Homo sapiens: one gene and its partners. Each later gene encodes a partner of the first gene's protein in a complex. Each region holds a gene or a part of one and is shown on either strand. Other genes may lie near its edges. A codon is read from its position in the direction of its gene.

Region 1 (9,758 bases):
AGGAAGGGCATGATTGTAAGGGGATTGAAGTCAGAGGCATCTACTGTGTCCCATTCTGCTCTCCTACAATATGGAAGTGAAGACAGGAGGCTGTAAGGGAGGCTGTGTGGCAGATGCAGGGGAGATGAGAAATGCCTAGGAGAAGAAAAATAAAAGTGAGAAAACATTAAGGTGTTCTGCAGGTGCAGCTAAGTCTTGAACATTTACTAAATTACTATATTGAAAAGAAGCTAACTCTTGAGTGTTTCAAAGTAATTTAACCCCTTTGGGTGTTTGGTGTGAGTGGGTGGGGCGGGTGGGGAAAGGGCTTTGAAGCCTTTGCTGAAGGATGTGGCTGGGGGTGAGGCAAGGAGCTCACCTGATCACACACTGTGCTTACTTCATCAGGTTGCCTAATGCTCAAGGGTTAAAGGTGATCATTCCTATGGAGGTAACATTTCCCTTCCAGATCTAAGACAGTGGATACAATTAAGGTTTGTAACTCAAGCTTGTAACCACTTTTTGGTGCCTGAAACCATCCAAGTAGATAGTTTGGTTTATAAGACATTCTGTTGAATCTGGAAAACGTGGTGGATTAAGAAACCCTCTCTGCATCACAAAGCCTGGAGTGTTTGCTACTAATTGTGCAACTTTAGTTCTGGTTCCTTCTAGTCAACCAGAGAAGTGCTTTTTAAGCTTACGGCTGTAACCCATGAGCGGATCATGATATCACTTTAGTAGGCCAAGACCAGCAGTTTAAAATGTGAAAGAGAAGAGTGGTGTGGAAAACAGCATTTCATAAAACAGACACCCAGTCTTAATGTCAAAGTATTGCTCAGTGTAGGTAACGATTTTAAAAAGCCTGTTTCAATAATTCTGGGGAAAACTACATTTTTAACCAACTTGCCAGGGATTCTGATGACGACGTTCTAGAGGGCTACAAGAAATACTTAGCTATCTCCTTTTAACAAAATACTGTTGGTTTAACCCCCTGCAGGAGATGCTATTTCCAAATGTTGAACCAGATGCAGTTCTGTCGGCTATTGACTTAACTTTTCAAAATGCTACTATTGGCCGGGCGCGGTGGCTCACGCCTCTAATCCCAGCACTTTGGGAGTCCGAGGCGGGTGGATTGCGAGGTCAGGAGATCCAGACCATCCTGGCTAAGGCGGTGAAACCCCGTCTCTATTGAAAATACAAAAAAAATTAGCCGGGCGTGGTAGTGGGTGCCTGTAGTCCCAGCTGCTCTGGAGGCTGAGGTAGGAGAATTGAGTGAACCCGGGAGGCAGAGCTTACAGTGAGCTGAGATTGCGCCACTGCACTCCAGCCTGGGCGACAGAGCAAGACTCCATCTCAAAAAAAAAAATGCCACTATTTGTAGAACTTGCCAGTGCGCTAGGCCCTCATGCTGCCATCTTGGAGGAACTAGAAACTCAAGTGACATGCTTTTCACTTTAGTGATGCAGAAAGGCAGTAGCTCCCTTTGCAATAACTCTTTAACCTTACTTAGAATAAAATCGACAGACTATCCCCTTTTCTCACCAAGTTTTAGTTTAGAACTTTTGAGGTCTTTGGAAATTTACTCTGCTCAACTTCTCCTTTCATATTTTACATCTAGTGTTCCCCACATGAATGATTCTAATTACAAAGACAGTTGTAATCTCTTCTGGAGGCAGCCACACTGCTGGGATGCATGATTAGGTGAAGCATTTTAGCTGACCTGGGCTTGGATTGGCTATCCAAAGAAGAAAGTCAAAGGCTGACAACTCAGCCTGGGCAACATAGCGAGACCACATCTCTCAAAAGTTAAAAAATTAGCTGGGTATGATGGCATGCACCTGTAGTCCCAGCTACTTGGTAGGCTGAGGCAAGAGAATGGCTTGAGTCCAGGAGTCTGAGGCTGCAGTGAGCTGTGATCTCACCACGGTGCTCCAGGTTGGGGGACAGAAAAAGACCCCATCTCTTTAAAAAAAGAGTCTGAGAACTTCTGCACTGTCCATAATAAAAGGATCATGAAGGCCAGTCATTCCACAGGGTGTGGCTCCCAGGACCATGTGTGTGGCCATGAAAGCCTTCCAGTATGCCAGCACAGCATTTTTAGGTTCAGCAAAGCCAGCCTGCATGTACAATGCACACACTGGTTGCAATGCTTATTTCCCTGGATAATTTGGGTTGTTTGAGTGTTAACAATTGGAACTTATCTATATTAGCCAGAACTAAAGCCTGCAAAGCCATATCATGATTCCTGATTACATTAACTACTTGTGTCTTAGTGCTGTATTTTCTAACCTGTTACAATATAAGTGCAGGTACGGTACGAGCAGAATTTGGTCATTGGCCTAAGGTGGGGTGAACAGTTAAGTATCAGATAGGAATACGTGTGGGAGAAGGAATGCTAGCTCATCAAACAGAATTAACTACAGTAACAAACTGGCATAGTGCTGAGTCGAGAAATTAGTCACATGTATAAATAGAAGGAGACGATTCTCAGTGTTCCGGGCCCCCACAAACACTGATTTCCAGAATCTGAACAGAATTATTATTGGAACTTCAATTTTAGGAATTGAGGCTACAGTTTTGACTGTTTTAGTTCTAACAGTTAAGGTAGAAAACAAAACTTTCCTCAGTAGAAAACACTGGAGAGGCACAACTTGCTGGACTAAGGACTGAGATGTGTTCAGTGGGTTGTACTCTGGATAGGGAATGGTGGTTTGAGGGAATGAAAATCAGGTAAGCCCTATAAAGCATTCTCTCAGTGGAGGTGGAGTCATAGGATCAATGCGACATTTTTCTCTGTGGCCTGACACACCCTTCCTCTGGGGATGCTGTTTTGGAAATGATGGAGAACAGTCAGAATAGTATTGTTATCCCATTTTACAGATGTGGCTTGGAGGAATGAAATGTCACAAGCATACTTAGAGAGTGCATCTGAGCCTTAAACCCAACTTTTCTGACTCGTTTTACTGCGTTGTTTCTTTCTCCTGCACCATGATGTCTGCACTGGTTAGTTCCTTCTTTTGTTGGTTCACTGGACTTGCCAGCCTCTGAGGCCAGGATGCCATGTGGAGCTATGCTGCAGTGGTGTCCAGAGAGGCTCTTCACTCCTGTATGTCCTGCAGATGGATGTGCCCTGGGTTGCCATGGTATCCAGGGATGTCAATGCTGCCACTGAGTCCTAGTTCTTCAGAGTCAATCCCTCTCTTTGGGTATCTCATTCTAAAGTTGACCTTAGTTTTGAGAGTCAATGGATTCTTCTCTCAGGGACAGTATGTCCATCAGCCAACCTCATGATATTGAAGCATATGAGCTAGAATGCAATTTATTAATAAAAAATGAGAACAGTATTTGCCAAGAAGAATGGGCGTTTATTCTTTAGCCAACATTTTTCCTCTGTGGATGAGTCATGGTGAAGGCAAAAGCATGGAACCACCTGGGAAGGAACCAGTTGGAAGGGGAATATACTTGACAGTGTTTTCCAGCTCCTCATAACTTTTGCTAATTCTCTTGTTGATAGATTCATACCAACTAAGAAAACCAGAGACTGGAGTCCTTTGACCGTGATGGTTTCTCCTTTGGGCGATGCTGAGGCTACTTGTACGGTTCTTTTTCTACTTGTAGGCTGTTGGCCATTTTACTGACCCATTATTTCAGGCAGTGTCAGCCTCAGTGCTATTGACATTTCGGGCTGGATAATCCTTTGTTGTAAGGGCTGTCCTGTGTACTGTCGAATGTTTACTGCCTTCCCTGGCCTCTGTTCACTAATGCCAGTACATTAGTCGTTTGTGACAACCCCAGATGTCTCCAGGTATTGCAGATTGTCCTATCAATTTTCCTGTCCCCAAGCTGAGAACTGCTGCTTTGTCTTCCTGTGTTAGTGAGACCAGTTGTGTGTTATCAGATAGTCTAGACTTTCAACAGCAGTTATAAGTGCCCCAGTTTTCTCCTTACTGGTTATTCCTTAGAGTCTAAGGTGGTGTATTAATAAATGAGAGGGCTCACCCTTTATGTTCATTTCTTTCCTCCAGCTCTCCAAGTTTCCTTTCTAGCTCTCTTCTCTCTTATACTGCAGTTGTTTCTCTAATCCAAATGTTTTTCAAGTTTCCTTTCCATGCATGTTTCTTCCTAGTACCTGTGGCTGAAAAACACTGTAACTAGTGAGTTTTTGTCTCAGTTTCTTAACAACGTTTTGAATTCTGACCACTGGTTACTGCCTTAACTGTAACCTTTACATAATGGCAATAAGATAAATGAAATGAGGGAGGTGGGTAGCAAAGCTCAGCTTGGCTTGTTCAGAGGCCTTTGTCACAAGACAAAGGAAATGTCTGTGTGGGAATGAGTTAAGTGAGTTCAGTGCCTCCTCCTTTGCTTGTCAAATCCACCTTGACTAGTTGGATAGTAATGGTTATTGATATTCCATTAGTGCGACCAGGACATTGTAGCAGGTCAGGGAGAAGCCTTCAAGGTACTGCTTTATGCGAAGTCCTTTCCCACTTTGTATATTAGATTTCTGTCCTAATCTTGCCATGTTAACTTTCTTATGTAATTATCTGTCAGCCTTTTATTTACCTTCTCTGCTTGGCTGCTGTCGTAGTCCAGAACACCATCGAGTGGCTTAAGTGCCGTAGAAATATGCTGGGTTATAGACTAGCTATGACTCCCCTAGGCAGCCGCCTTCTTACAGTTCACCAGCCCTATAGCAACCCTCCACCCTTCCTTCCGCCCTTTGTGTCTTTTTTTTTTTTTCAGTTCAGAATTGCATTTAGAACGCCAGAGTTTTGTGCTGTGGGGTTCAGTGGCAGAGCTGGATGAGCTGTATTTTCCAGGCTGCTACACACAATTACCCTTAATTTTGAAGAGTAATCCATTTCAAAATAATTTTTTTTTTGTTTTTGGTCTCTTTAGCCCAAATGCGTAACCACAGCTGGCTTTACCCTTGGCCCTCAGAAAGCATGTGGCTTGGGAGGTAGAGCTAGTGGAGGAGTTTGGTCAGATTGCTCATTTTTGGTCAAGTGAGGAGTGAATTCCAATAACACTCAGTAAGGCTGGTTTTTATTTGACTCCCGTCCACCCCTCCAACTCTCCCCACCCCACAGTTTCCTAGATTTTTTTTTTTTTTTGAGATGGAGTCTCACTCTGTCACCCAGGCTGGAGTGTAGTGGCGCGATCTTGGCTCACTGCAAGCTCTGCCAACCGAGTTCAAGCGATTCTCCTGCCTCAGCCTCCTGAGTAACTGAGATTACAGATGCCCACCACCATGCCTGGCTAATTTTTGTATTTTTATTAGAGATGGGGTTTCACCATGTTGGTCAGGCTTGTCTCAAACTCCTGACCTCGTGATCCACCCGCCTCAGCCTCCCAAAATGCTGGGATTACAGGTGTGAGCCACCACACCCAGCCTCTTTGTTTTTTCTTTCTTTTTCTTTTCTTTTCTTTTTTTTTTTTTTGAGCTAGAGTCTTGCTCTGTTGCCCAGGCTGGAGTGCAGTGGCACGATCGTGGCTCACTGTAACCTCTGCCTCTTGGGTTCAAGTGATTCTTCTGCCTCAGCCTCCCCAGTAACTGGGACTACAGGTGCCTGCCATCACACCTGGCTAATTTTTGTATTTGTAGTGGAGACAAGGTTTCACCATATTGACCAGGCTGGTCTCGAACTCCTGACCTTGTGATCCGCCTGCCTTGGCCTCCCAAAGTGTTGTGATTACAGACATGAGCCACTGTGCCTGGCCCCTAGATTTTTTTATAGTGGACTTGTGCCTCAGTTATTCCAATTGTGGGCCACTCTGGGAAGTGACCACTACTCAGAAATTTTGGTTTGGGGGAGTGGGACCGATTCTTTGATATATTAAATAATAAGTGCTTTGTACATATATGTGTGTGTGAGAGAAAGACACACACACACACACACACCCATGCAGCTCTAATAATGAAAGGCCTTTAGAAGCAAAGAAACAATTATATCAGCTGCTAAATCCTGTTTTCTCCAGTGCTGTCACTTTTATAGTAAGTCAGCACAAATCACATGAAATTAAACATTTTGTCAAGGAATGAATATGTTTCCATCATCTCTAGGCTTACTCCACTGCCAGGAAGCGACTTTGACTCATTAGAACTACTTTCTCAATTACTGTCCATTCTCCAACTGAAGGTTTTTGAGAAACATTTGCTTGGGTTTATATGAGAGAAGCACAGTAAAGCTTTATTTATTAATTGTAGTATATTTTAAAAACAGATGTTGAGCTTATCCTTAAAATGTATATAAATATTTTCAAGCTAAACTATTGCTGGGCTTATAGCCCTGATCATAATGCTTCATTCAGTCATTCAAGTCAGTCAACAGCCACTTTGCTTGTAATTTGTATGCTGTAGCCTGGGCACTCCATATGTGGAGAAGGGGTAGGGAGGGCTGTAACAGGCAAATCTGTTTAGAGACAGTCATAACAGTATGCTAAAGGTATGTTTACCGTGATTGCAGATCACAGAGGTAGGTGTTCACAAATGAGGTGACTTTTGAGAAAGATCTGGAAAGCTGAGTATTAAGAGAAAGAATATGATACATCCAGGGAATATAGCAATCAGGGTGATGGAGGACAGTCTGGAAGGGGCTTTATGTCAGCAATCCCAGGAGCTGGGCATTTGGATTCAGCAGAAAGGAAAGCCAAAGGCTTTTAGGCAAGGAAAAGATGCAGTGCATTCCAGTGAGAGCAACCTGGAGGATAGATTAGATGGTACAGCTGGAGGGAGGGGCAGAGGAAAGATGGGAGCTCCTGCTAGGCCTGCTCAAATAAATACATGGTCTTGGTCAGATGAATAAATAAACAAAGCAGTGTGCTTGCTGTGCCAATGCAACTAGGAGACAGGTTGTCCAGCCCCCGCCTTCCAGCGGGTGCCAGCCAGAGTCTGAGCAGAGGTAAAGGAGGGGAGGCCAGCACTCACCGTGTTTGCCTGTAGATATTGATGACAAAATTAAATGATTTGCTAAGTGATTGGATTTGGGAAAAAGGAGAAGGAGTCTTTGAGGTTTAAAGCGCCATAAGCACATACTTGTTAATGGAGGGTTCAGATCTCCTGTTGAGTACAGCAGATGGGTGACTTCAGGTAAGTTAGTGATCTTCCTTAGCCTCAGTTTTCACATCTTTCAAGTGTAGGTAATATAAGTCCCCACCTCTTCGAGTAGCTGAGATGATTAAATGCAATCATGATTGTAAAGTAGAGTACCCTAAAAGCGTTGGGTTGGATTTGCTATTATTATTGAGGTTATTATCACTGATTCAGTAGTGTTTTTTTTTTTGAGACAGAGTCTCATTCTGTTGCTCAGGCTGGAGTGCAGTGGCGCGATCTCGGCTCACTGCAATCTCCGCCTCCCGGGTTCACGCCATTCTCCTGCCCCAGCCTCCGAAGTAGCTGGGACTACAGGCTCCCGCCACCACGCCCGGCTAATTTTTTTTTTTTTTTTTTTGTATTTTTAGTAGAGACAGGATTTCACTGTGTTAGCCAGGATGGTCTCGATCTCCTGACCTCGTGATCCTCCTGCCTCGGCCTCCCAAAGTGCTGGGATTACAGGCATGAGCCACCGCGCCCGGCCCGATTCAGTAGTTTCTATTCAGGTTCTTTATTAAACTATCTTGCTGAAATCATAAAAAGAGATGCATTTTGTATTTAATTTTCTTCAAGTGACCTAGGTAACTGCTCCTAAAGTCTTGACTAGAATTAGTTTGCTTTATATGTCTTTTCTTCAAGAAAACAAGAGGAAAGGTGGGGTTGGCAGGGAAAGAGGAGATGTTGGTCAAACCCAGATAGAAAGTTTCAGTCAGACAGGAGGAATAAGTTCTGGTGATTTTATTACACAGCATGGTGGCAATAGTTAATAATTATATATTGTATATTTCTTTTTTTTTTTTTTTTTTTTTTGAGACGGAGTCTCGCTCTGTCGCCCAGGCCGGACTGCGGACTGCAGTGGCGCAATCTCGGCTCACTGCAAGCTCCGCTTCCCGGGTTCACGCCATTCTCCTGCCTCAGCCTCCCGAGTAGCTGGGACTACAGGCGCCCGCCACCGCGCCCGGCTAATTTTTTTTGTATTTTTTTAGTAGAGACGGGGTTTCACCTTGTTAGCCAGGATGGTCTCGATCTCCTGACCTCATGATCCACCCGCCTCGGCCTCCCAAAGTGCTGGGATTACAGGCGTGAGCCACCGCGCCCGGCCTATTGTATATTTCAAAACAGCTAAAAGAGGGGATTTTAAATGTTCCCACCACAAAGGAATGCTAAATATTTGAAGTGATAGATATGTTCATTAGCCTGATTTGATCATTCCTTAGGTATACATGTATCAATACGTCCAATTGTACCTCATAAATATGAATGATTACTATTTGTTAATTAAAAATGAAACTTAAACCAGTACAGGAGAAGTACCAACTGTTAAAATACAGACGGGGATGAGTTATGATTGACTGTGAATTAAAATAACTGATGTAATGACTGAAGTTAGCAATTTAGGGTCCTCAAATGAAAGCTCTTCTAATGTGTATCCCCAGTTCCATTTGAACTAACCTGAGATTTTACTGTTTTATTGTATTATTAATTTTTTTTTACTTTGAGGGGAGAGAATGGAGATGGCTCCATTGGAGCTCTTTCCCTTTTCTTGATTCCAGCTTTTGAGGTTGTTTGCATTTGTCCAAGGGTGCACAGGGGCCCTGGGAGAAACCCCATGTCATTGGAGTAACAGTGAAGGAGCAATTGTCAGGAATTTCATTCAGTTGAACTGGGTTTCATATGATTATGTTGCATATAAAGGAGGTTCAATGGGTCCATTCATGCTTTGGAAATGTCCCTTTTTCAATCGTTTGGAACCTTCCACCAAGTAGGGGACTGTTGAAATGTTCATTGGCAGGTGGGTGGTTGTAAATTGTTAAATTTTCTTCTTTAATCTGAGCCAGATGATCAAGCTGTCAACCAGATTAGAAATTATCCTGGGAATAAAAATAGAAAAATAAAAGAAGAATGTCTGTAGTCCCAAGTGTACAGACCCAGTGTGGCCCCATTGTCCCAGCACGTTCAATTACACCAGCTTTCACTTTCCAAGTGCAGTGGGTTGGACAATTCATTTTATGGCCACCTAAGTGGAAGCCACCTGCTTCCATTTCCAATCGCTCTCTCTGGATGTGGCCGGTTTGTTTGGGTGCTTTTTCTACTTATTGCTTCTTCAGAAAGGCAGCAACTAGCTTACAGGCACACCAGCTCATTAAGCAGTAGCTCATGTACCCATTAAACAGTCACTTAGTAACAGCTTTTAAGGAGTGGGTTGAAAAGAGAGAAACCTTCATCTAGACACTAAAATGCCCTGGATAGAAGTATGGGTGTCAGAGAGCCATGTGCCAAACAGAAACTGCTTCTCCAAATTAGTGCTTTGAAAGTGATAACTTTTGGTCTCCACCTTGACTTCCATTACTATAGTCATGAAAATCACTTGTCTAATGGCTGTATGCATATCTTCATTGGACCTGACAAATATACAGTCTTCAGTGTGAAAAATTTCTGGTCACTTTATTTTACCTAGGAGAGTGGTAAACATGGGTTATTCAGCAACTACAGTGTCCGCTGTGTAGCAACGCCTCTTTTCTATATATCAGGATTGGTGTGTACCTTGAAATAGAATCCAATGGTAAATATATGTTTAAAGACCCATAAGAAGACTTAGATAATGAAATACAGATCTACAGTAACTCACTGGAGAGTTATGTTCTTACCAAAATATCTAGCAGCTTAAAAGTGATTTCAAACA
Region 2 (10,578 bases), on another chromosome or scaffold:
TTTTTTTTTTTTTTTTTTTTTTTGGCAGGGGGAACAGGGTCCCCCTGTCACCTAGGCTGGAATGCAATGGTGCCACATCAGCTCACTGTAACCTCCACCTCCTGGGCTCAAGGAATCCTCCTACCTCAGCTTCCTGAGTAGCTGATACTACAGACACACACCACCACACCCTGGTAATTTTTGCATTTTTTGTAGAAACAGGGTTTTGCCGTGTTGCCCAGCCTGGTCTCGAACTCCTGGGCCCAAGTGATCTGCCCGCCTTGGCCTCCCAAAGTGCTGAGATTACAGGCATGAGCCACTGCGTCCAGCCCATCATCTCTTATTTTAAACAGTTTTATGAATATAATTTTTCAATGTATATAGGAATCAAGACATACGGTAAATAAACATAGTTTGTTTTTTTTAAAATCAGGTAGTTTGATTTCATCTCACCTAAATATGGATCTAGTTTTCAAGAAACTAATGCCTTCTTACTGCTCACATCATCCACCTCTCCCAACAGTGGAATCAGCTCATTTAGACACAGCAAAGAACATTCCAGAAACAACACTAGAAAAAAGAATTTTCCCATGTTCATGAAAAGGGTAAATCATAAGTATAAATCTCCTTGTGACAGAGATGAGGAGATAATAGCATTGGAGCCCCGAGCATTATCTTCCCATCCATCAGAGAAGCCGGACCCCCACAGCCACATGGCAGAGCCTGTGCAGACTCAGAGATGCTCACGACCTAAGTCACTTGCAGAGTGGAGAGTGAATAATGATGTTGGAATCCCTGGGGCCTATGAAAAGGTACTTCTGGGACTAGGGTGATTCATGGTTTCCTTTGTCCTGCTAAGCTCATGGGTCCCAGAATTACAATGTATCACCTACTCCTGGCTTACTTAGAACCATCCTTAGGAGCCTGCAAAGCACTGCTTAGAACCAATTACATTATTTGCATTGTTATCATTTTTTTGGTAGTTCCATTAGCCACTGACTCGTATAGGATCACAGAATAATCTTCTTTTATCTAGAGAGAGAGAGAAAAAAGACACTTTAAACGACTCCACAGCATCTCATAGAGAAGCCATCAGACCAGCCTGATTTGGCAAAAACAAGCCTGGTAATCAACAGGGAGGTGAGGCTCTTGCCAGTTCTCTTCACATCCTGTCCATTTATTCTCTAAGGCATTGTAAGGGTTAGTCACAATACTCATGTCAAACTAACCCTCAAAGCCACTTACCCTCATTTCTTTCTCCATGGCTCCTTCAAGCAGAGCCTGTGAGTGTCTGTGCGTGCTTAAGTGTGTTTGTATTTGTGTGGGTTTTGGAGTCTGAAGATCTCTGTGGAATATGCTTAATGTTTCTTCTGAAAAGATATCAGAGGAAAAAAAAAGGGTATTTCTGGGCATCACGCTGTCATTCCAACTGCCTGTCTGGTTAACTGTCTAATTTTAAGCCTCATTCTAATAAAAGACTTTGAAAAGCTCTGCTTTTATGATTTAAAAGGACATTCACACTAGGATTTAGCCATCTGATATAGCAAAGTGAGTGGATTTCAGTTTTCAAAAGGAAATGATAAACATACTGAAAGCTGTAATTAAAATTTTCCATTTTCCTCCAACTCTCTTAAAGCCATTGTCAAATTTGAAATCTCTGGCACCCAAATTCAAACCTCTAGTTTTGGAAGAAGAAGACTTCAATGCAAAAGTGGGATGAGGCAGTTGAAATCGCTTTGGTAGAAACCCAGTTCCACTGGATAAGAGCATTAACATTCTGATGTATGGTACATTTGAAATATACCTTTGGTCAGAGAACAGAGGTCATCCAATTTCCCTAAGCACGGAGAATTCATGTAACTTTGAGAAGCCCTGAGTCCACAACAGGCAAGTCATATAATCCAGTGCAGAGCGCTTTAGCTCCTAAGGGGCCACATGGAGAAGTTGCTGAGGAAGGCGTGAAGAAGTGGGTCCTAAAGAAATATTGAAAGGAAAACTTTGATACAGAGCAACTGGGACAGGAAAGGGTGAAGACAAGATAGATATAAATGGTGACCAAGACAATGGCAACTCTACTCCCTTGCTATTCAAGCCCCAAACCTTAGAGTCACTCTTTTTGTTTTGAATTAATATTTGTTTAGAGACAGGGTCTTGCTATGTTGTCCAAGCTGAAATGCAGTGCCAATTCACAGGTGCCATCCCATTATTGATCAGAAGGGGAGCTCAAGAGAGGGTGCCACCTGGAGCCTGAGGCAGTTCAAATGTGAAGTCCCGGCTACGGGATCTTTGTCAATAATGCAGTCAGTGACAGAGAAAAGACAAGGATGCATCCAGTTGCTTTCTACACAGGGATGCTCTCTGGGCTGCTGGCTGGTTGGAAAAGGGAGGTCTTGGGGTAGATTTCCCCCTGGATATGTGGGCCTGAATTTCTTCAGCTAAGGAGGAGTACCGAAGTTTTGGGATATAGGACTTCCAAATTAGGGCTTTCCAAATAATTGACCCGCTCCATTTCTGACCTGGACCAGTTCACCCCTCCTTAGGCAACCTGGTGGTCGCCTGCTCCCAGGATGTCACTATATTGATGCGGAACTTAGTGCAGACACCTGATCAGCATAGCTCACTGCAGCCTGGAACTCCTGGGCTCAAGCAATCCTCTTGCCTCAGCCTCCCTAGCAGCTGGGACTACAGGCATGTGCGACCTAGCTGGCTTTAGAGTCATTCTTGACCCAGCTTGTATCTCACATGCAGGGACAAGAACCAAGGTGTGTGGGGCCTGAAGGGTGTACGATACGGGTAGGGCTCTTTAAAAAAAAAAAGAAAAATACAAGCATATCTCTTTCTGGGGGAAAACTTTCCAAAAAAGATTGAAGCCTCACAGTAGTAGATCCCCCTGCCGTTCATGTGGCCCTCCTCTTGGTTCTTTTTCATGCTGTGATGCAATCATAGCTCACTGCTAGCCTCGACCTCCTGGGCTCAAGCAATCCTCCCACCTCAGTCTCCTGAGTAGATAGGGCCACAGGCACAGCCACCATGCCCAGGATATATATATAGTAGAGGAGGGTCTCACTATGTTGTCCAGGCTGATTTTGAACTCCTGACCTTAAGCAATCCTCCCACCTCAGCCTCCCAAAATGCTGGGATTACAGGTGTGAGCCACCACATCTGGCCAGGCTCTATTTTCACGTATGTCAAGAACCCAACATCTTTTTCACCTCCATCCTTATCCTCCTGGACCCAACTACCTTCATGTCTTGCCTGAATGACTGAAATAGCCCCCAACATCCATCCATGTGGGCCTCCCTTGCCCCTTTACAATGGATTCATACCACAGCAGGCAAGTTCAATATGTTCCAGGTTGGCTCAAAGCCCTCCAAACCTCGCTTGTAGTAGTAATATATAAAGTCCATATGCCTGCCAGGGTTCTGCTCTATCTGGCATTCCTCTGCCTCTTAGACCAAGTTTCCTCTCACCTGTTACTCAGCTCTCATTACCTAGGATCTCTGGGTGACCTGGGAACCTGCCAAACACGCTTGGTGTCCTTTGCCTTTGCTGTTCCTCTTTTCCAGAATACTTTCTCCCGGAATCTTCACTTCCTTCAGGTCTACACCTCAACCTCAGCTTAGCAGAGCTGCATTCCCAGACCACTCCATAAAAACAGCAGCACCCTACACGCCCTATCCTCCCTGCTTTGGATTTTTCTCTAATGTTTACTCTCGTTTGGTGTACATTTCTTTACTGTCTTACTCTCCCCGTCTAGACTAGAAGCTCTGTGAAGGGACACATTCTACTGTATTCACCGCTGCACCCTCATTCTTAGAGTGATGCCTGGCACTTAACGTGTAGGCATTTAATATGTGTGTGAAGAAGGAAGAAGAAATTACCTAACCTGGGAAATTAGAATCATGATATACTAATGGAGGAAGATAAATTATTTTAGGGAAGATGGTGGAATTCTTTCTGGATGTCAAGTCTAAAGTGACAGAGGAATTTCTTAAATTATTGTTAAACATTGTGAATAAATACCTATTGGTTGATGGAGAAAAAAAAAGCCAGCTCTAGTAGTTACCCACCGTGAATAGGACTTAAAAAAAATTTCAGACCTCGTTTGGTAAAAAACCACCAAAGTTAAAATGCACTAATTCTCCAATGAAACTTTACTATCTTGTTACCTTGTTTGCCTATCTATCTTTACTGTCTTTTTTTTTTTTTTTTTTTTTTAGACGGAGTTTTGCCCTGTTGCCCAGGCTGGAGTGCAGTGGCGCGATCTCGGCTCACTTATAGCCTCTGCCTCCCGGGTTCCAGCGATTCTCCTGCCTCAGCCTCCTGGGTAGCTGGGATTACATGAGCACACCAGCACGTCTGGCTAACTTTTGTATTTTAGTAGAGAAGGGGTTTCACCATGTTGGCCAGGCTGGTCTGGAACTCGTGACCTCAGGTGATCCACCCGCCTCGGCCTCCCAAAGTGCTGAGATTACAGGCATGAGCCACCACGCCTGGCCAACTACCTGTCTTTACTATCTTTACTACATGTTTGTCTTCCTTTCTTTTATATTCCTAAAACGCATGAAAACCTTCACAGGCTGCAAGGAGGATATAATTTCTCTCTAGAGGAATCTTCTTCGAAGGTGAACGTAATTAAGCTGGTCATTTACTCTACTTGCAATGTTACTTCTCGGTACAAGGTAGGGAGAAACCCCTGGATCTTCATTCTCCAAGTCTCTCCAGGAAGAAATGAATTCCAAGAGGGGAGCTCCAGAGAGGGCGCCACCTGGAGCCCAAGGCGGTTCAAATGCGCAGCCCCTTTGGGATCTTCGTCAAGAAAAGGCAGTCGTTGACGGAGAAAAGACGGGGATGCGCCTTGGCCCTTTCTCCACGGGAATGCTCTCTGGGCTGCTGGCTGGTTGGGAAAGGGAGGTCTGGGCATGAGGGTCTAAGTTTCTTCAGCTTAAGGTTGGGGGGTCCCCGGAGTTTGGGGATACAGGACTTCCAAATTAGGGCTTTCTAAACAATTTCCCTGCAGAGGATCCCCTAGCAAACGGTCTGATACTTCTGAGGAGCCCACCTCCCTTGCACCAGCTCTCCGGTGATAAAAGTTCTGCTTTCCAGGCTCTAAGCGGTGGCCCCGGGAGATTCAGTCTGCCCTGAGTCCGGCTTCTCCCGCTCGCGGCGCGGGTTCAAGCTCCAGGGGGTGAAGGCAGAAGTCAACTGCTCATTCATTCAACAAATATTTATTGCGCGCCCGCTTAGTGCCAGGCACCGGAGGTGCCCCGAGCAAGAAGCCGCTCTCGCTGATCCGTTTCCGCTCCCCAAGTGTCCGGCGCGCGCCGTGGGAGCGCAGCCCGCATCCCTCGCCCACCGGCCGCCCGGCCTGGGCGTGCCCGGCTCCTCCAGCGCAGCCCTCTGTCGGGAGCCGGACCCCCGGGACCCAGCCTCCGGGGTATCAGCCGGGTGGGGAGGGCGGGAGAAAGGCAAAGTGCCGCCAGCGTCAAAGTCCCGCCGGCCCAGGAAGCCGCTCCAGGGAAGCGCGCGAGGCGGAGCCGCAGTCGGCCCCCGCCCGGCAGAGCGCAGAGAGCGGCGCGGGCGGGAGAGGCCGGGCGCCCGCGGCTCGGAGGCGGCCCCGGCGGGCGGAGGGTGCGGCCGGCGGGAGGGACTGGGGCGGCGCCAGGAGGGGCGCGCACTGCTGCGCTGCAGCCCGGCCCAGCAGGTGACCGCGGGCGGCGCGGGCACGGGCACGGGCGCGGGCGGCGCGGCGAGGAGGCGGCCCGCGGAGTCCAGCGAAGTTTGGCGGAACATGGCGGAAGCGTCTGGGGCACGCAGGAGCGCGGGGCGGCGGCGGCCGGAGCCCGAGGAGCTGTAGCAGCCTTAGTCGCCGCCGCCGCGGGGCGAGGTCGCCGCCATGGCCCGCTGGATCCCGACCAAGAGGCAGAAGTACGGGGTTGGTGAGTGCGCGCCCCACCTTGTCCCGGCCCGACCCACGCGGCCAAGTTCGCGGACAGCGGCCCTGCCAGGTTTGCGCAGAGCCCGGCGGAGGACCCTGGCCGGGGGCTCGGCCCGGCTGCGCAGCTCTGGGAGCCGGGGACGGTAGGAGTCCTCTCCAGGGAGCGCCGATGGGGAAGTCGCCCAGGGTTTGGGGACTCCGAGTGCTTCCAAGTGCAGCTGAGCTTCGGGACCGTAATCCCGCTCTTGCATCCCAATCTCCGGCACTTCACACCAGGGAAATGTCAACGCGAGGGGGGCGCGCCTGCTGCTCTTTTGGGGCCGCAGCTCTGTGGCTCGCCCCGGTGCGCCCAGCGTGGGTTTCACCTGGGAGTAGGTGACCAGCCCGGGTCGGCACATGGACTGGTGCTCATTGTCCCAGTGCTTTCTGCCCCCCGCTTTCGTAGGTTCTTCTCAGACGCCCCTTAAGTGAGGAGTTGAGGGTGGAAAGCCGCCCTGCCCCCTTTCCTCCAGAGACTGGGATCTTGATGACAGTTGTGAGCTGGATGGAAACTAGAGTCGTGGCGTGGAAGTGATGGAAGGGACAGGAAGTTGTGGCACGGGAAGGGGGTGGCTGGCCCCTGGGGCTGTTTGTGCGCACTCATCCCCTAACGGAGCCTGTCTGGAGAGGGTGTAAGGCTGCCTTCCGGATCCTGAGTTTCATCCTGGAGACGAGAAGAGGACATTTTATTAAGGAAACTGTGCCAGACCCCGTGCTGGGCACTTGGCATTCAGAACAGCGGTGCTGGAGAGCCCCGGGTTGTGCGCAGGGGTTGCTGGTGGTGGTGCTTTGGCTCCGAAACAATAGATGTGCGGGGATTTTGACCCAGGTGGAAAGTCAGGCTCCTTTGGCTTTTTATCAAGGATTGAAGTTATTGAGGGCCTGTGGGAAGACTTCTGCCCTGAACGGGGTGATTACAATGGCAGTTAGACCTGGGGTGATTCCCTACAATAAACACGGCTGAGTGTGTTGCGAATTTTATCACTTCCTCTCAGATCCATTCATTTGGCCTGTTTGTAATTTAGTCTTTGACTTTACTCCCTTACTGAGGTCCTGTTTTTCCTCACCTCACTGGTTAATGAAGTGCAGTCTCAATTAAGAGCTACTCAACGTGTCTAGGGGCTTTTCAACTCTGTAGCCAGGAGTCAGGGTTTTTTGTTGTTGTTTGTTTTGTTTTTTAACAGTCTCATATTTACTATATTATTCTTAGGTTGTGATCCTTTATATATTTATTATTTTTTGTTTTCCCTCAATTCAAAAGACATTTTCTTTTTTGCTCTTAAGTTGCTTTTAGAATCTTAGTCTCTCCCTTAGCTGCATCTCAGAAATGGGTAGAGATGTTGCTTCTGCCTCAGGGCTCTTTTTTTTTTTTTTTTTGGTTTGTTTGTTTTTGAGACGGACTGACGAGGGAGTCTCACTCTGTCGCCCAGGCCGGAGTGCAGTGGCGCAATCTCGGCTCACTGCAAGCTCCACCTCTAGGTTCCAGCAATTCTCCTGTCTCAGCCCCCCTCCCCGAGTAGCTGGGATTACGGGCTTGCATCACTACACCTGACTAATTTTTGTATTTTTAGTAGAAACCAGGTTTCGCCATCTGGGCCAGGCTGGTCTCAAACTCCTGACCTCAGGTGATCCGCCTGCCTCGGCCTCCCAAAGTGTTGGGATTACAGTCATGAGCCACCTCACCTGGCCCCTAGATGAAAGCATATTTACAATGCCCAATCACTACAGAAATGTTATCAACTCTAATTTTATCAGGATTAAAAGCTCTTTTCAAAACTATTCAGTTGAGGGTAATTAATGCAAACATGTTTCAAAAATGTGGTTTTTATTGCCATAGTCCTAGGAGCAAGTATAATTGTTTTTAATATTTTGTTTTTATGTTCTGGAGTCAGTTTACTGTGTCACTTATCAGTCAAGAAAAATATTTGGGCCAGGTGCGATGGCTCACGTCTGTAATCCCAACAATTTGGGTGGCAGAGGCAGGAGGATTGCTTGAGCCCAGGAGTTCAAAACTAGCATAGCAACATGGCAAACGGGTCTTTACAATAAATACGAAAAAAATTTAGCCGGGCATGGTCGCCTGTGCCTGTGGTTCTAGCTACTGAGGAGGCTGAGGTGGGAGGATAGCTTGAGCCTGGGAGGTTGAGGGTGCACCGAGCCCCCATCACGACACTGCACTCCAGCCTGGGTGATACTGTGAGACCCGATCTCAAAAAAAAAACTATATATACATATATATACGTATATATATATATACACACACACACACACGTATACACACACATATATGTATATATGTATATACATATATATGTATATATGCGTATATGTGTGTGTGTGTATATATATATGTATATGGAAATATGGGTGGAAATTGTGTGTGTGTGTGTGTGTGTGTGTGTGTGTGTAAAATATTTGGATTGCATTTCCAGGGCCTAGGTGTTAGGGAAACTGCTCCAGGATATAATTCTGAACACTTATTTCACCAGACATAGATTCTGGTTTGTCTGGGTTTGACAAAAGGACCCACAGTTGGGATAAATTAACTGAAGAGAGAAATCTCCATTGCTTATTGCTAAAACTCATTGTTTTTGTCACCTCCTTGCTTATGTTTATGTCACCTCCCTGCTTGGAAGTCTCTCGTGGTCAACAGGATAAAGTCTGAGCCTCCGTTCCAAGGTTCCTATAATCTGGTTCAGCCTATCTTCAGCATTATCTCTCGAGGCTTCTTTCACTAGCTCTCCAATGCAGACCAACTGCCCTTCCCACTGTTGTGCAACATACCCTGCAGAGTCCCTCCTTTGGGACTTTGCTCCCATTGTGCCTGTCCCTGCCAGGAGTGCCCTCCCAACTCTGCCTCAGACAGCTCACCTTTCCTTGAGGGCTCAAATCCATTCCTACTCCCTTCTTCAAATTTGCTATTTGTCAGACTGTCCCAAACCTCCTTGCTTCTTCCTCGCAGTTCCTGGACTGTGCCATCCTTGGGTTCAGTGAATCAGACCATTGTGGTTTTGTATTCCTAGCACTCAACAGGTGTACCAGGTATTAGTGCATTCAGTTTGCTTGTCCTTGATGTTGGGGTGCCGTTCTAAAGTACACTAACCTAGCTTGTCTGGTAATTGAATGCAGTTTTTTCCTCTTCTTTTTCTTCCCATTAGGCATAACATCTCATTCACCCCAATATGAGTTGAATTTTGTTTGGTTAGATGGAGGAAGGGAGAGCCTCCACTCTGTCTTTATCTCTGCAAGTAAGAGAATGAGATATTCTGCTGAGAAAACAAGGAAGCATGGAGCAGACAGACTTTCTTAAATATAGTTGGGAAAATTGGCTTTCTGGACTTCTCTAAGTGTGTACTGGTCAGATTTGGTTTCTGGATGAAGGAACCGTAGGATAGTCATGTTGAAGCATTTGGATGACTCAGAGCTAGCTATGACTTTGCCTGTTGTGCTCTAAGAGGAGTGTGCCTCTGCAGAGCTAGTCTGTGTGAGGATAGAGCTTTGGACTCAGTATGAATTGTGCCTGCTGAAGCTGGCAGTCGCTACTGTCATATTTTATCTTGGTGCCACTCTTGGCTGTTCCTGACATATCCTAGATGTTTCTACAGGGACTGAAATGCAGCCTGTCTGGGCTTTCTTAGTTCTTAAACAGCAGTGTTGGCTCAGGCTCTAGCATTAAGTGGATCTCAATGGTTTCTGTGTGTTATCAAGTGAAGTGACTGATCTATTTGATTCTTTAAACTTATGGTGCTCTAGTACCCCAGTGTTAAGTGCTCAGTGGCTAAGTGTTCTTCCCTGGAGACGTGGAAAATGTGCTTTTTTCTCATCTTTTTTCTTTCTTTGTTTCTCTTTTCTCTCTCTTTTTTCTGTTTGAGCATATGAAGATATAAAACACTTTTAAGCAAACATTAGTGATAAATATCCAGAATAGTCTGATTATAAAAACATTTATTTTTAAGTTTGCTTCCACACAAGCCATTATGTAAAGAATAGCCCCAGATTAGGTTGACTATGGATTCTTTGCAAAGCTTTTTTTTCTTTTCTTTTCTTTCTTTCTTTCTTTTTTTTTTTTTTTTTTTTGAGACAGGGCCTCACTCCACAGCCCAGACTAGAGTACAGTATGATCATAGCTCACTGCAACCTGCCATCTCAGCCTTCCAAGTTGCTGGAACTGCAGGTGTGCACCACCATGCCTGGCTTAAGTTTTTTGATTTTTTAAGTTTTAAAATATTAAACTTTTAAAATAATCATTTTAAAGATGGAGTCTTTCTATATTGTCCAGGCTGATCTGGAACTCTTGGCCTCGTGTGCTCCTTCAGCCTTAAGCCTCCCATGTTGCTAGGATTACAGGGGTGAGCCATGAGCCTGGCTGATTTTTTTTTCTTTTCTTCTGAGACAGGGTCTCGTTCTGTAACCCAGGATAGAGTGCAGTGGCAAAATCATGGCTCACTGCTGCCTCAACTTCCTGGGCTCAAGTGACCCTCCAGCCTCAGCCCGCTGAGAGCTGAGAGCTACAGGTGCGTGCCACCACAACCAGTTGATTTTTGTATTTTTTGTAGGGATGGAGTTTCACCATGTTGCCCAGGCTGGTCTGGAACTCCTAGGCTCAAGCAGTCCTTCTGCCT
Region 3 (10,784 bases), on another chromosome or scaffold:
CTCCCCCCATATGAGATGAGGACAAAAGAGGAAGCTGGACCCTGGACAGGAAAACCAGTCTGATCTGGGGAGGTGGCCCAGGCTTTGTCTTTGGTTTCCCTCCTCAGCTCTTGTCACGGACCCCTACTGACCTCACCACTAATGGGTCTACAGTATATAGAAGGAGTCTTCAGTGTGGGCCTGAGCCCCCTTCTTCATGTCACAACCTTGACCATACCTGTTTAGCCAAGACTTCAGCGGCAGCCTCCTAGGTTGTAGCCACCACCTCCCTTTACCCCCCAATATTTTCCCATTAAAATCTCTCCCGCCCTGGTCACATTTTTTCCAATGATGCCTTTTTTGCAATTAGCTCAAACTTCCAATGGGGCCAGATCTCACCTGGGAGAATCCCTGTCTCACCCATCTTGTCTTTACCATCAGAGCCCTGTGGGTTTGCTCAGTTACGCAGAATACTAAAGTAACTACTGGTTTGCCAGCCTAGGAACTGGGACTCCTGGGGTTTTTATTAAGCTGTGATGCTGGGAAAGTGCCTTGTATGCACATCCTTCTCTAACCTGGGCTCTTATGTAGGTCCCTGGGATTTCTTCCCGGACCCAAACTTCTGTACCTCCAAGAAATGGGAAGAGAGACAAGTGGTTGGAAGGGCAGGACTGGAAGAAGAACAATTCATGGGAGAGGGACGACTGTGACATGGGAAGATGACAGAATGGGGAACAGGGAGAGCCCTTAAATTTAGCTGTAGCACTTACTCCCCTCTACTTCTCTTTTTTTCTAGTGGAGAGAAATGAATACAGATGACTAGAGGAGGTAGACAGGAGCAAGATCCTCAGATGCACCCCAAAAGCTTGAGGATGGAGCTCTAGAGTGGAAACAAGAGCCTCCATAGCCAGGATGGACTGAAGTTAAATTTGGGAGGAATTCCTGAGAAGGAATAGGGTCCTAGGTGAGATGGGGAGTATTAAGGATGCCTGAAGGCAGAGGGGTCAGTAGAACTCCAGAGGGCTTCCTGGTCACTAAGGCCCTGATGCAGATCAGGGCATGCGGGTACCCAGCCTAGGCAGGCCCCAGAAGGTAGCAGGAAAGGAGCAGACACTTTTGCCTCCGCCGCTTCTTAAGTCCGAAGTTAGACCAGCTGCAGTCTTTCCTCCAGAATCCTGCATTTGCCTCCTCCCTTTATTTCCATCACACCCAAGCTGGTCCCATTCTTTCCACCAGGTGATGCTGGAACTAGTAGGTAATGGAGTCAGGGACCTTCAGGCTGTCTTCCGGCTTCTAGGCCTGGCCTCTTGGTCAAGCACCACGGGTTGGGGTGATTTTGATTTCCCACGGCCTCTCTTACAAGTCTTATTCCTGTGTCACCCTACCCTGACTGCTACAAACGGCTTCCTCCTGCCTAACCACAACCTCACTCACTGCAGGTTCCCTTCATTCTGCTGGCTTCCCTTGCTCTGGGCCCTCTCAAGGCTGAGGGCAGTTATTTTGTCTGTAAGAGATAAAGATGTAGTCACACAGACACGCGCGCGCGAACACACACACACACACACACACACACACACACACACACAGGCTTTCCATCTCTTTAATCCATCTCTAAGAGATGAAGATGTAGATACACAGACACGCGCGTGCGAACACACACGCAAACACACACACACACACACACACACACAGGCTTTCCAGCTCTTTAATCCGTCTCTATCACTGGGAGGCTGCAGACTGCCTCTCCAAGCTAGGGAGGTTTGAAAAGACTCTAGAACTCACTAAGTCTTCAACAACTGATTCCAAAGCTGGAGATAAGTGGGTGGGAGGGAAGGATACAGAGAGGGTGACAGGCTGAGGGTTCAAAAGGAATGAGGGGTGATGGAAGAAACCAGGAGGTGCATGTGTGTGGGTGCCAGAGCTGGGAAGGGAAGGGATGGGGCAGGTTGCAGAGGACCAAGACGAACATGGGGCAGGGTAGGTGAAGACAGGTCAAGGCCTAGGTATGACCGTATGTTTGGAGGAAAAGAGACTGGAAGGGATGAGAAGAGAGTGATGGCGGATTTGTGGGTAGAAACTAAAGAAGGTGTGGAGGGAGACGACAGGAGCATGTGTATAATTCAGGGACTAAGAATGAAGAGGAACACTAGGAGATGGTTCTCAATTGTCCCCAAAAGACACAACAAAAACTTGTCAGGGACTATCAGTACCTCTGAATGAGAGTCCTTCCACTTCCAGTTACAGGGCAAGACCAAGTTACTCCCAAAAGAGCAAGGCCAGGCTCTGGTCAGCTAGGAACAGCGTCTGCTCACTAAATACCTACTGCTTGGCTCCAGGTAAGGTCGGGACTCAGGAAAACAGACATACAGACAACGACTGGGGTCGGCGGGGCTCCCCCACCCAACCCGGGTCCTCCTGAGTGCAGAGGGCCTTGGGGCTGCAGACCGAGTGTGGGTCTGTATTAGCATCCATCTGACAGGGAGAGAGCTTTCGGAGGCCCCAGACACCGCCCCTCTCACCCCAAGTGTCACAACTGCCAGAGCAGAGGGAGCGCCTTTTCCAGCCCAGAAGCCCTCTCCCCTCACGCACTTCTCAACACCCCCCCCACCAACTTCTGAGGACACCCCACCTGCGTCCGATCTCCCAGCTCTGAGCTCTTCCACTTCAGAGACACTTATCTTGGAGCCCGGGACCCTCCGACCTCAGGGGTCCCTCTCGGCTCCCTAGAGGCGGTACAGCCGCCGGGAAGCCACCCTCGCCGAGCCTCCGCCGGCTCGCAGTGGCCCCGTTCCCGCCCCGCCCGGCCGGCCGCGCCCGCCCTACTTGGACTGAACCGAGAAGCTCCCGCCCGCGGCCTCCGCCAGCAAACTCATGAGCCGGCGCCCGCGCCGAGTCCTGGGCCGGCCGGGCTCTCCTCCCCCGGACCCCTACCCGCCAGCCCCGGCCGGGCCTCACCTGGTGCCCTCCCCGAGGCGGGGGAGCTGGGGGCGGCGGCAGCGGCTCCGGGCTCGAGAAGGAAGTGAGAGCGGGAGGCCGGAGGAAGTGGGGGGGGCGGGCCGGCGAGGCGGGGCGGGCCGGGGCGGGGCCCGACCAGGAAGTCCGAGGGCCGATCTCCCCCTCTCCAGCCCCGGCCCGCCCCCAGCCTCGCCCCCGGCCCAGTCCCGGGCTTGCCACGTTCCCCTCCCAGTCCGCTGCCCCTGCGGTCAGTAAGTCAGGCCTCCCAAGGTCAAGTCTCTCCGCCTCCTCCTGGCCACCCTACCCCTGGAGGCCCTACCCTGGGCGCTAGGCGTTCGTCCTCTTCCCCCCATCCCGCCCCCACCAGCCTCCGCGGGAAGATGCTGAGAAAGGCGCCCCTGGGCCTGGTCCCTTCAGTCAACCCCAGGGATAGAGTGGTGGCCGAGGCTGGGGCAGTCCCCGCCCCTGCCCTGAGCCCCGGGGGAGTGCGAGGTGGTGGTGATTCAGCAGTGGGAAGGCCCCAGACCCCTGGGGAGGGTGGGGAGACTCGGGGGGAAGAGGAGCTGGCGTCAGCACCCAAGGGAAAGACAAGATCAGCAGAGGCGCAGGCGGAGCCGCGGGCCCCAAAAACAGGATGTCGAGTCGTCATTCAGCACCGTGCAGCCCTGCGAGGCCTGGCTCTGGGGAGGGGGCGGGGCGGACGGAGGACTTGGGGCTTCCCTCGCCCCCTCGCCCCCTGTTCTGCTGGGGCGCGCAGCTGCTTGGGGCTGAAGAGCCGCACCCAGGCCTGAGGTCCAGCTTGGGCCCCGGCGACCCGCGGGTGGGCGGGCTCATGGGCGCCCTCTGGTGCTTCGCTCCCTGGCTTTGCGCTCGGAGCTTTGACTTGAGAATCCATATCCTTCGTTCAGCACAAAGTTTCTGAGCGCCTACCACGTGGAGAGAGCTAAGTGCTAGGTGCTGTGAAGAAACACAGCGTTTAAGACAGGATCCCTGTCTTCCAGAAGCTTTTCAAATAAACGGATTGATTCCAGGAATAAATAGCTTAACCTTTCTGAGCCTCAAATCTGTCTTTGGTAAAATAGAATAATTATATTTCACCCCGTAGTTTTGAAGATAACATGAGAATGGGTGTAAAAGACCTGTTGTCAATGCGTATCTCAAACACTAAACAAATATCTTTTAAAAATATCATACCCTAAGAGTCTGGCGCGGTGGCGTCTGCCTGTAATTACAGAGATGGTGAAACCTTGTCTCTATAAACACAAACACACACATATTTTTTGACAGTCTCACGATGTCACCCAGGCTGGGGTGCAGTGGCACGATCTCGGCTCACTGCAATCTCTGCCTCCCAGGTTCATGCAGTTATCCTGCCTCAGTCTCTCGAGTAGCTGGGGTTACAGGTGCATGTCACCACACCCGGCTAATTTTCGTATTTCTAGTAGGGACGGGGTTTCACCCTGTTGGCCACGCTGGTCTCGAACTACTGATCTCAGTTGATCCACCTGCCTTGGCCTCCCAAAGTGCTGAGATTACAGGCGTCAGCCACCACACCCAGCCTACTTATATTTTTAAAAAAATAAATAGGAACCACGTAAGTAATTTAAAACTGTCTATTAATGACATTTCAAAAAAAGTAAAAAGAAACGAAATGAATTTTAACTATATTTGACTTAGCCATAGCCAAAGTATTATCTTTTTTTTTTTTTTTTTTTTTTTTTTGGAGATGGAGTCTCGCTCTGTCACCAGGCTGGACTGCAGTGGCGCGGTCTCTGCTCACTGCAACCTCCGCCTCCTGGGTTCAAATGATTCTCCTGCCTCAGTCTCCCAAGTAGCTGGGATTACAGGCACGTGCCACCATGCCTGGCTTATATTTGTATTTTTAATGGAGATAGGATTTCACCATGTTGGCCAGGCTGGTCTTGAACTCCTCACCTCGTGATCTGCCCGCCTCAACCTCCCAAAGTGCTGGGATTACAGGCATGAGCCACTGCGCCCGGCCTCAAAATATTATCTTTTAGCATGGTAATCAACATAAAAATTACTGGTTATAAAAATTAACTGGATATTTTGCATTCTTTTCTTGTACCAAGTCTTTGAAATGCGGTGTGTATTTTATACTTACAATTTGTCTCAATTTGGCTGGAAACATTTCAAGTGGTCAATAGCATGTGTAGCTGGTGGCTACTGTATCATCCTCAAAAACAGAGGCTTTATCAGATTCAGGCTGGTGAATGACTGTGTGGATGAAGTCTTTCTCAAAGATCCTTCTCTAGAAGCCTCCCCTGACCTGCCAGGCAGTGTTTGGGTCTCTTGTCTCCTCTTCGGTCTGGTCCCTGTAGCCCTTCAGACAAACTCCTCTTTGTGGAGGACATGAGAGCAGGAGGCACAAGGGGAAATTCTCATTCCCATCCATACACCATTGGGACCACTTGACATTGGGGTGCTTGGTATTTCATGAATAAAGAAAGGATTGTGAGCCCCAGAAATGACAGGGTTCAGAGGAACACCATACGCTAAAGCAGCTTCTATGACGCCATTAAAGATTATGTCCCAGCACAAAAGTTTTTTCTGGTTTGTTTGTTGTTTTTTTTTAGATGGGACTCTCACTATGTTGCCTAGGCTGTCCTGGAACTCCTGGGCTCGAGTCATCCTCCCACCTCAGCCTTTCAAGTAGCTAGGACTACAGGCACACACCACCACATCCAGCTCCAGAAGAAATGTTTCTGATATGTGTTCCTAGAATTCCCTTCCCAGGACTTAAGAACAGGAAAAACAGTGGAGCTATGGACTCTCTCCCCTTCAACCAGAGAAGGTTTGCTTTTTATCTGATTTATTTACTAGTATTCTGCATAGAGAGTTTAATTTTGTTTTTAAGTTTCCTGCAAAAAATATTTGAAAATCAATTTAAGGACATAGTGATAAGAGTAGGGAGCACATTAGGTGCTGCAGATTGAAAGACTGGATTGGCAGCCTGGGATCAGATTGCATTTCCTGAGCCTGTAAGTGTCTTGGGCTTGCCTAGCCCTGGTTTAGGAGGGAGAACCTGATCCAGCCTCAAAGATCTCATGGTCTGATGAAGTATAGGACTTTGCATATGAAGCTATCAGAAGAGGAGGAAAAAGTCCAAGGCTGGGCTTTAGAAAACCTTCAAGTCTGGCCTGGCACAATGGCTCACGCCTGTAATCTTAGCACTTTGGGAGGCTGAGGCAGGCGGATCATGGGGTCAGAAGATCGAGACTATCCTGGCCAACATGGTGAAACCCCGTCTCTACTAAAAATACAAAAATTAGCTGGGTGTGATGGTGCATGGCTGTAACCCCAGCTACTCGGGAGGCTGAGGCAGGAGAATCACTTGAACCTAGGAGGCGGAGGTTGCAGTGAGCCGAAATCGCGCCACTGCACTTCAGCTTGGCGACGGAGCGAGACTCCATCTCAAAAAACAAAAAACAAAAAAAAAAAAACCACAAACAAACTTGAAGTCTGTCTTGGCTCAGACAGACAGATTGAGATTTTAGGCTAGGCCCCACCCTTCTCTGTCTCAAACTCTTCCACTGGAAAACAGAGGTTGAACTAGATGATACCTTTGAGCTCTCATCTTCTATGATACACTCTTCAGAATAATAATTAAGGTTTATGCATATAGCATGTTGCTCATAGTTCTTTAATACCATTTAGGTCATCATGCTTTGTGCTCTAGTAAATTGCATCTGTGCCTAATATCTGTCTCCCCCACTGACTATAAGTCCTTTGAGGTTGCGTCTGATTCATTTCTGTGTCCACCCACTGGGCCTGACAGAGGCAGGCCTGAGCACACATTTGCCTTCACTAAACATCCATAATGTTAAATTGCTTTAATAAAGTACTAATATGTGTAGAACAATCAGACTCCAGGTAACTTGGAAACACTTTTGTGGCACAGGTATGGGAAGGGCCAGAGGAAAGGGAAGCAGGTGGACAGGTGGAGCTGTCCGTAAAGGCTTCTTGAAGGAGGAGAAATGCTGACTTGAAGAGGGTAGGAAGAGGGCACAATCCCAAATGGGCTGTTTCTTTTTTCTACTCTCTCACTAGCTTTCCCTGAATAGGTGAGTTCTTGGTAGGTGGTGTGCATGTATGCTTACAAGCAGCTGAGAGACAAGGACATTGAACCTGGACATTTAGAAGTGAGATAATATGAAAGCACTTGGTGGGGTAGAATAGAGATCACAGACAGGTTTTGGAGACAGATTAGGATGGTTGTAACACAGTATGGCCTTTGATTAGTCATATGAGATCTCCCATATTCATAAATATTCAATGTATATTTATTGAAAATCTTCTTGGTGCCAGACATAGTGTTACATGCCAATCATGAAGTAGAGAAAACTGCCCTGATATAACTGGTAAGGGAGATAGACCTTAAACAGGTAATCATACAAAAGTAGAGTGCTGCTGGGCATGGTGGTGTTTGTCTCCAGTTCTAGTTCCTCAGGGGGATAAGGCAGGAAGATTGCTTGAGCCCAAGAGTTTCAGACCAGCCTGGGCAACATAGCAAGAACATTTCTCCAGAAAAAAAAGTACAGAATACTGTAAGAGCATATAACAGAGCCAACTTCTCAGTCTTAGTTTCATTTTAAAATGGGAATGGCTGGGCGTGGTGGCTCATGCCTCTATTCCTAGCACTTTGAGAGGCCAAGGTGGGACAATCACTTGAGCCCAGGAATTTGTAACCAGCCTAGGCAATCATAGCAAGACCCCATCTGCATACACACACAAAAATTAGCTGGGCATAGTGGCACATGCCTGTAGTCCCAGTTACTTGCTAGGCTGAGGTGGGAGGATCACTTGAGTCTAGGTGTTTGAGGTTGCAGAGAGCTATGATCATGCCACTGCACTACAGTCTGGGTGACAGAGTGAGATCCTGTCTCTAAAAACTAACAAATAAAAAACAATAAAATGGGACTGGCAAGTGCTGCATGAGATTGTGAGTATTAAACGACATAATGCATGTGGAGCCCTCGTAAATTGCCCTAGGGTACAGCAAATAAACATTAGTTAATTTCTCCACACTCCCTTGATGTTTTCAGGTATCCCCCCGCCCTTGGTTAATTCTTCCCTCTCTCTCAATGTCAAAATGCTAAAGCTGACTAGTTTCCCTGAGAGAGGAGGGGACAGAGAGTGAGAGGAGAAAGGCCCTGAACTGATCTCACCAGTGCCCTGAGGATTCCAAAGGGGTCTTCCCAGCCTATTCCTCACTGAACTCCAGCTCCAGGAGCTCACCAGTGATCCACAGGGGTCTTGGCTTAGCCCCAGTCCCAGCCCCTTTAGGTTACCCTTAAATCTGAATTCTCTTTTGCCTCTGCTGTGGCTCCAGGGGACTCAGCCTTCTTGGGGCTCCTCTTGATCCTTTGGTCTTCCCTCTCTCAGCCAGCCTCAGGAGTAGAACACAGTTTCCTCTTCATTATTTCTTTTTTTTTTTTGAGACAGAGTCACCCAGGCTGGAGTGCTGTGGCACGATCTCTGCTCACTGCAACCTCTGCCTCCTAGATTCAAGCAATTCTCCTGCCTCAGCCTCCTGATTAGCTGGAATTACAGGCATGCACCACCACGCCCAGCTAACTTTTTCTATTTTTAGTAGAGACAGGGTTTCACCATGTTGGCCAGGCTGGTCTCGAACTCCCGACCTCAGGTGATCCGCCCACCTGGGCCTCCCAAAGTGCTGGGATTACAGGCGTGAGCCACCGTGCGTGGCCTTTATTTTATTTTTTATTTTTTGAGATGGAATTTTGGCCTGTAGCCCAGGTTGGAGTGCAATGGCACGATCTCAGCTCACTGCAGCCTCCACCTCCCGGGTTCCAACGATCCTCCTACCTCAACCTCCTAAGTAGCTGAGATTACAGTTGCCTGCCACCCGCCTGGCTACTTTTTTGTATTTTTAGTAGAGATGGGGTTTCACCATGTTGGCAAGGCTGGTCTTGAACTCCTAACCTCAAGTGATCCACCTGCTTCGGCCTCCCAAAGTGCTGGGATTACAGGCATGAGCCCCTGTGACTGGCCTCCTTTTCATTACTCCTCTTTATTGCTGCCCCCCAAAACAAGTCCAATATCCCATTTTGTGGGCTTTGATGGGCCAGACAGGAGACAGCAGAAAGAACTAAAAAGAGGTGACAAATTAAACAAAGTTCTAGAGTCACAACCTCTGATCTTTTTTCTTTTTTTATTTTTTTTCTTTTGTTTTGGAGATGGAGTCATGCTCTGTCGCCTAGGCTGGAGTGCAGTGGCGCAGTCTCGACTCACTGCAACCTCCACCTCCCAGGTTCAAGCCATTCTCCTGCCTCAGCCTCCCGAGTAGCTGGGACTACAGACGAGCACCACCACGACGGCTAATTTTTGTATTTTTAGTAGAGATGGGGTTTCACCATGTTGGCCAGGCTGGTCTTGAACTCTTGACCTCAAGTGATCTGCCTGCCTCAGCCTCCCAAAGTGCTGGGATTACAGGCGTGAGCCACCACATCTGGCCAATCTTTTGTTCTTGACTCTCTCAAGGAACTAAATGGATGAAGGGTGTGTGGACAATGGCCATGCCCTATTTTCCAAGAGGGTCCCTTCTCCCAGGCAGGCAGAACAATAGTTGTCCCGTTAGCCTCCAGGACAGCTTTGCATCTTTGACATTTTCTAAGCCCAGTGGTAGTACCCACATCATCTGGCATAATGCCCCTCTGGGAAAGTTCTCCTTCCTCAGTCCTGGTATTCTAAGAGCAACCCAACTATAGCTGCCCAGTTGATTCGGGATTCCCTGGGGAAATTTTCCCCAATTCTCATCTTTGCCATTTACTTGCTGTGTGATCCTGGAGAAGTTGCTGAATAATAATTTAGGAAAACAACTTAGATATGTTTTACATATGCTTTACACGTATTAACTCAATAAATATAACAAGTCTATAAGGCAGGTAATATTATTTCAATTTTACAGATAAGAATACTCACAGATAGGCCAGGTGAGGTGGCTCACGCCTGTAATCCCAGCATTTTGGGAGGCCGAGGTGGGTGGATCACCTGAGGTCAGGAGTTCAAGATCAGCCTGACCAGTATGGTGAAATCTTGTTTCTACTAAAACAAAAAGTACAAAAATTAGCCGGGCATGGTGGTGTGCACCTGTAATTCCAGCTACTCGGAGGCTGAGGCAGGAGAATTACTTGAACCAGGGAGGTGGAGGTTGCAGTGAGCCAAGATCATGCAATTTCACTTCAGCCTGGGTGATAGAGCAAGACTCTGTCAATAGCAAAAGCAAAAACAAAAACAACACAAAACAAAACAAAAAACCTCACAGATAGCAAAATTGAACGTGTCAGTTTTAATTTCCTTTGTAAGATGAATCTAAATTGTGTTACACCTCAGGATTGCTATGGATATTCATTATATGAGATAACATGTAAGCTCCAGGAGGGCAAGAAGTTTTGCTTGTTTTACTTAGTGCTATATTCCTAGTGCCTAGAACAGTGCCTGGTATGAAAATACTTTGCTCAGTAAATATTGGTTGAATGAATGATTGAATGTAGCACGTTTAGCATAATATCTAGCAGACAATAGTATCTTCCAAAACCACAGCTATTATTTAAACTTGATCTGTCTTGCCTGCTCACCTGGTCATCTAATCAATCACCAAATATTTCGCAAATCTGAACACTTTTCTATTCCCGTCATTATTGTCCAAATTAGACTTCAGGTCTTGTCCAAGGTCACACAGCGGTGAGCTGGGTTATCAGTACAGGTCTGTCAGACCATGTCACTTGTTTCCAGCTTCTACCTTTTCCAATACTTTCTCAGCACTATTGCCAGAATAATTTCTGCAAATCACAGTTACCTGATCT

What was found.
Region 2: the proteins of ELMO1 (region 1) and DOCK5 are in contact, whole or in part, in a cryo-EM structure (PDB 8JHK), measured with the Homo sapiens proteins. Residues at the interface, in NP_001193409.1 of Homo sapiens: Ile7, Val8, Lys9, Ala11, Tyr18, Pro19, Leu21, Glu23, Glu36, Asp39, Gly40, Ser42, Asn71, Gly72, Gln392, Asp393, Leu400, Glu401, Lys468, Arg531, Glu535, Leu536, Lys539, Leu547, Gln550, Gln551, Asn554, Arg555, Asn582, Thr688; in NP_079216.4 of Homo sapiens: Met1 (codon at 5,876), Ala2 (codon at 5,879), Arg3 (codon at 5,882), Trp4 (codon at 5,885), Val14 (codon at 5,915), Ala15, Ile16, Tyr17, Asn18, Ser22, Gln23, Gln30, Ile31, Gly32, Asp33, Thr34, Glu39, Tyr41, Gly43, Trp44, Arg46, Tyr48, Lys56, Ile58, Pro60, Glu61, Thr62, Tyr63, His65, Leu66.
Region 3: the proteins of ELMO1 (region 1) and RHOG are in contact, whole or in part, in a crystal structure (PDB 7Y4A), measured with the Homo sapiens proteins. Residues at the interface, in NP_001193409.1 of Homo sapiens: Lys9, Val10, Ala11, Glu13, Tyr18, Pro19, Leu21, Met22, Ala54, Asn71, Gly72, Ile74; in NP_001656.2 of Homo sapiens: Val36, Phe37, Asp38, Trp56, Tyr64, Arg66, Leu67, Leu70, Ser71, Pro73, Gln74.

What each region holds. Positions count from the first base shown.
Region 1 is NC_000007.14:37,436,107-37,445,864, reverse strand, and holds part of ELMO1 (engulfment and cell motility protein 1), read left to right. Parts: intron 1-9,758. UniProt on the Homo sapiens protein: Involved in cytoskeletal rearrangements required for phagocytosis of apoptotic cells and cell motility. Acts in association with DOCK1 and CRK. Was initially proposed to be required in complex with DOCK1 to activate Rac Rho small GTPases.
Region 2 is NC_000008.11:25,179,034-25,189,611, forward strand, and holds the start of DOCK5 (dedicator of cytokinesis protein 5), read left to right. Parts: upstream 1-5,655; 5' UTR 5,656-5,875; coding exon 5,876-5,918; intron 5,919-10,578. UniProt on the Homo sapiens protein: Guanine nucleotide exchange factor (GEF) for Rho and Rac. GEF proteins activate small GTPases by exchanging bound GDP for free GTP. Along with DOCK1, mediates CRK/CRKL regulation of epithelial and endothelial cell spreading and migration on type IV collagen.
Region 3 is NC_000011.10:3,837,960-3,848,743, forward strand, and holds the start of RHOG (rho-related GTP-binding protein RhoG), read right to left. Parts: upstream 3,001-10,784; 5' UTR 2,935-3,000; exon of another isoform or gene 2,609-2,934; intron 317-2,608; exon of another isoform or gene 108-316; intron 1-107.